Regions from separate parts of the Homo sapiens genome. Here region 1 is linked to region 2. Evidence: fine-mapped expression QTL. A gene starts in region 2. The other region holds a variant in brackets. All regions are shown on one strand. Distances are between the middles of the regions.

Region 1 (2,929 bases), 440 kb before region 2:
GATCAAACACTGTGCAATCAGAAGGCTTTCTTCCAACTAAATTGGAGTGGTCGTTATCACTTTCCCAAAATGCAAAAATAAAAATGGCAGAAATAGAAAAGGTACTATACATAATCTGCTAAGCAGATGTCACAGTAAACCAGCTAATTCTGCAGCAAAGAAAATAAAATGCTCAAAATGCAAAGTTTATAATGTATGAAATGTCTTAGAGATGTAAATATCAGCATGTCTAAGTTTTGTTTAATTATCTTTGGGTTATAACAAAAACTGAACACAGATATGGGCTCTATTCTCAAGATAACTGTCCATATTCTTTTTGAATTACTCAACCATCATTGATCAGTTAAATAAATATGTAATTTAATTAAACAATCCTGTGAAGTAAGTACAGCTACCAATATTTTGTAGATAACAAAATGTGGCATTCAGAAGGAATAGAGAAGTGCTTGAGATCATAGAAGTTATAAACGGAGAAGCTGGGATTTAAATCCAGATCCACTGTATTTATTTATTAATTTATTTTATATATATATATATATATATATATATATATATATATATATTTTGTAGAAACAAGGTCTCGCTGTGTTGCCCAGGCTGGTCTAAAACTCCTGGCCTTAAGTAATACTCCTGACTTGGCCTCCCAAAGTGCTGAGATTACACACATAAGCCACCACACTTGGCCCTGAGAGCCACTGTATTTAAAAGAAGAGCTAGCAGCAGCATTTTATATTACATGCATATAGAATACCCATATTCCTCCAAATATTCTTAGGGAGCTATAGTACAATGGTTAACTATTCACCCAAGATTTGTACTTCCTTACATGGTGTAGCATTGTTACTGGAAAGCTCAGCCAAGAGCTACAATTCCCAGGGTCCCTTCAGTTAGGTGAGGTATTGTGACTTCACCTGGACAATGTGAGAAAATAATGCTTGTCACACGAGAGTGACAGAGAAAAAGAAGAAGACTTGAGGACTCTAGGGAATTACATTGGATGTGATCACTGGTAGGTATAACTTATGGGAGAAAGAAAGACTAGGGACTGTCTGAGTACTTGAGAGAACTATTTTACCCAAAAGACTAGCACTGATTTTTTTAAAAAACGTATTTCACTGTTTGAGGCTACAGCAACCCTTGGACTTCCAAATTTGTATAAAGAAGTAGGTTATGAGAGCTATGGAGCTCCAAGGTGGGCACACTGCCTGACACTCCCTTCAGATGAGGCCATAGAGGATGATGAAAAAGAAAACCTGTCGAGGCTGTAGAGACAGGGCCATGGAGGAAAGGGACCAAGGGCTTCTCCCAAGTGGGGATATTTACAATGCCTGCCTGGCAGGATCTCACTTTGTTAGGAAATGGTGATCACTGCTTCTTTTCCTTTCTTCCCTTCTCTGAAAGGGAGTTTTAAAATTGCAGTTATTCTGCTCCTGACACAACACCTATGTGTTTTGTATTTGGGATGCGGTGAGGGATAGATGACTCATGTTGTGGTTTATAGGAAGGTCAGAATATGAGGAGGAATCTCATTTAGACCCTGATATGGTTTGGCTGTGTCCCCACCCAAATATCATCTTGATATGTAACTCCCACAATTCCCATGTATCATGGGAGAAACCTGGTGAATG[G/T]TGATTGAATTATGGGGTCGGGTCTTTCCTGCACTGTTCTTGTGATAGTGAATGAGCCTCAGGAGATCTGATTGTTTTAAAAATGAGAGCCCCTGCACAAACTCTCTCCTTGTCTGCCATAATGTGAGACATGGCTTTCACTTTCCACCATGATTGTGAAGCTTCCCCAGCCACATGGAACTGTAAGTCCAACAAACCTCTTTTTTTTTGTTTTTTTTTTTTTTTTTTTTTTTGTAAATTGCCCAGTCTCTGGTGTGTCTTTATCAGCAGCGTGAAAACAAACTAATACAGACCTGATGGAGAAACTATTCATGACCTGGAGATCCTAGACTGTGAGGTAGATGCTTGAAGGGTAGAACTTAGGGCTGTCTCTTTTTGGGAAAAGTAGGCACAGATATTTGGTGGCCAGATATAAGAATAGTGAGGGAAAAAGGTAGCTGCCTTCCAGGGTTCTGTGCTTGTGCTTCTTAGAGGAAGGATGTTACCAGGAAGAGGCTGTCTTACCCAGGACTGCAATTTTCAGGCCCCTTGCAACAAGGTGGAACCCCTTACCAATGGAATTTGAGTGTATGTAATCTGAGTCATTTTCGAGCCAAGGTAATTACGAAGTAGATGGGCCTTCTCTACTCTCTGCCACTTGATGTGGATGCCTTTTGTAGTCATATATAACAGAGCCACGATACAGAGGTGATTCAGAGGCTTCCTGTATCACCACATGGAGGAGAGCTACCCCTACACCTGAATCAATTTTTATGTGAATGAGAAGTAAATATCTATTGCATCAAGCCACTGAATCAAGAATGTGGAGGTATACAGGACTATAACATGAAATTACTGACCCTCAATCCTTATCAGCTATCTGATGGAGAGAAACAGTTTATAGTAAAGATTGCCTGTGAGATATTTAATCTATTCTTTTCTGCAGGCACTAAAATCCATTTCTGGTTTCAGTCAGACTAGTTGAGTGCTGATGGCTACACTGAGCCATTTTGTGTATACTACCTTATTGTTAGCAAAGCATCCCATACATTTTGTAGATTTAGAATATAGATTTCTTCTCCTCCCTTTCCTCCCTGCCTCCCTCTTTCTTTTTTCCTTCATTCACTCACTAGTAGCCACTACGTGTCATAAACTCTACTGGGTTATTGAAATGTGATAAGAATATTAGTATTGCTATAGTTTGAATGTCTCCTCCAAAACTCATGCTAAAACTTAACAGTATTGAGAGGTGGGGCCTTCAAGAGATGACTGAGTCACATGAGTGCTCTGCCCTTATGAATGAATTAATCCCCTCATGGATA
Region 2 (2,929 bases):
GAATCCAGTTAACTGTATGCTTTTCTGTTAGGCAGAGAGGGCTTTGGAAGATTTCTTTCTTTCTTTTCCTTTTCACTGTCAAATCATACCCTTCAAAAATCTCAACTATACGTTGAAAACGTGCTAGTAACCTCCCAGCCTGGCTTCTTTATTCATGAAAATTGGTTCTTTATTAAAAACTGATGTTCAGAAAACAAAAATATACATCATATGTATGCACATAATGCACGCTAATTTGTGGATTTTAGCAGAGAGATGCAGTCTTGGAAGGATTTTAGGACTATAATAGACAAATGGTGACAACTATAATTAAGTGCAAAGCAGGAAAACATTATTTTCAACAGCTTGGTGCTATTCATGCCTAAGTCTGTGATTCAGATGGAGCATTCACTTTCTAATTAGTTTCACTGCCCACTGTTTACTTTTGTATACAACATACTTTGCCTTATTGTTTTCAGAACTATTGGGATAACATACATGCATTCTCTTCAGTGGAAATAAACAGCAACACCCCTCCTGTGAAACCTAAAATGAATGTATTTGGGGACTTTTTCAGAATACCCTGCAAATTACAGAAAGACAAAACAGAGGTGACTGTGGATGTATTTACTGCTTGTGAATTGCAGTTAAAATGTACTGGAAATTCATCCAAACTTGAAAAAAAAATCCTGCCACAACCAAAACTTAATAGTTTTTCAATGACTGCTTTCTCTTGCTCATTTCTTCACCCATATAGATCCTACCACTCAAAAGGATTACTGTGATTTTATGCTTGCAATATATATTTTTTTAATTTAACTTTTTTAAATTCTCAGCATTACTTCCAAGCCTCCTGCATGTCACTCTCACTGCTTGCTCCTTTACCAAGGGGTTGTCTCAATGTTATTAAGCGTCTTCCCCAAATAAAGCATTCAGCCTTGCACAGTTCTCTAGATATGCCTGGATATGTTTCAGATCTGCTTTCTGAATCTTAAACCCTTAAAGATGCTTCTTACCTGAAAAATCCAGCCAAGAGCAGAGTACTCTATTAGTGTTCATTGGAAAGATCTAACACTTTTTAAAATCCATCTGTGCCACAATTTAAAATTTTTTTTCAAAGAGCTTCCCAACAATCTTCTTTATCAGGATTAAAAAAAAAAAAATGTTACTCTCTTCCGATCCTATTTCCACAGTAAAAAAAAAGACATCGGGTTCATTCAGACTGTATTGTCAGAAAAGGAGCCAAGGTTTGAGGGGTGGAAACCTTGTCATTTTCACCTTTAAATCATCTCCTGGCGTCACCTCTGCCTGACGAGACCTTTGAAGTGATGGGGAGATAATGTGCAGTTTCCTGATGAGAATCAGTTTATAGTTGCCGATGGACCATCCCCACTCCAGTGCATTCGGGGCAGAGTAAGGCAGCAAAATGTAGGAGCAGGGCTGCTATACGGTGCTGTAAGTAGCAGTAGTCTGTTTCAATACATCCCTCCGCTCTAAAGTATCACATGTCTTAAAGTGACATTACCCTCTATTACAGCTACAGTGAATTGTAATATCTGCCTACTAACTCTTCAACAACTCAAGCAGCGCTTTAACATTATATTGCCTGATTTATTACATTAGAAGTCCTACTGATACCACTGATTTAACAAAAGAGTAAAGAGGGAAGGAGAAACAAGAAAAAAGCATTCTGCAAAATACTGATAGTATTAGTGGGAGTTAGACTTCTAACAGTAAATGGGAAAGTGAAATATAAGCCATTTCTTACCTCTTAATGTTCTTTTTACCAGTAAATTAACCACAAATATTGTCAGGTTTATACTAATTTAAGTCTGCTGGTTGTTTCAGCAGTTAAATAGACTAGAATTTACCTGGAATAGGACATAGATGCGTATATGCATAAGTCCAATAAAAACCTTCTGAACTTTTTGAACATGTTTAATAAATAAAAATATGTTATTTTCAGCATCAAATGAAGAAATATGCTCACAGCTCTTTTTTAAAAAATTTTTCCTCTCCTTCAAATAACATGCTGGGGTGGGGAGGGAAAACACTCAGAAGTTCAACATCTTCTTCCTCTTACTACGGTTTGAACCCTTTCTTCTTCAGAAATATAGTATAATTTTGCCTAAATTTCAATGATGAATACAAGATGACCTAGTTTTCATTTATAGATTGTGCTGGTAATAATTCTCTGAAATACCCTCAGTTATTTCACAAATCACTTATAAAGCACCTACTATGTGTTAGGTGCCTGGGAACAAAGCAGAAAACGTGATTGATGAGATCCCCACTGTTATAGATGATACTGTCTAATCTTTTATGGTGTTTTCAAAATCAAGGTAGTTCTCATAATATTGCTTCCTTGGAAACATTTTGAAATTCCCCAGAATACTCTCTTGCCTTTCAGAGGCACAATAAAGAAGGTCCAATGCTGCTGCACATCTTTGCAAGTGATTCTGTTTTCTCATGTTACACACAGTGAGAGAGTTAGGGATCCTTCAGACTCGTCAGTCTTGCCAATTGGTCTTTCACATTGCACAAAACACACATAATAGCTCTTTGTAACATAACAACTGTTCTCTAAATCTTACCTCTAAACAGATTTCTAAGTAATAGTAAATATTAATCTCACAGTTAAAAATGTCAAAGTTCTAGTTGGTGTTGCATGTTTCACATCTGTGCCTCATTATTATTGTTCATGAGTGTGTACAGAAAGTTTACACTGACTGTACAGCATCAAGATAAAAAAATAATAACAGCAGTGGCAGCAGGTAATGTTTATCAAACCTTCACCAGATGCTAGCACATTCTATAGTATGTCTTGTAAAGTCTAATTTAATTCTTTTTACCAACCCCACAAGATAAGTATTATTATTATCTCTGTTTCACAGATGGGGAATGTGAGAGGAGACAGGAAGATTAAAGAACGTGCACAAGGTTGTGTGGT

Evidence for each region. PIP is the estimated chance that this variant, and not a neighbour inherited with it, causes the effect.
Region 1: its variant is the best candidate, but not a certain one, in a credible set for the expression of TAFA1 in ileum (GTEx, PIP 0.53).

Annotation. Positions count from the first base shown.
Region 1 is chr3:68,442,406-68,445,334 of GRCh38, reverse strand. All of the region lies in intron 3 of TAFA1 (TAFA chemokine like family member 1), which reads right to left. Among named protein-coding and RNA genes, the nearest start is that of TAFA1, 440 kb to the right of the region's middle. The variant G/T (reference allele first, on the strand shown) is at 1,629.
Region 2 is chr3:68,002,769-68,005,697 of GRCh38, reverse strand. TAFA1 (TAFA chemokine like family member 1) reads right to left here and starts at 1,451. Exons shown (of 5, transcript NM_213609.4): 1 at 996-1,451.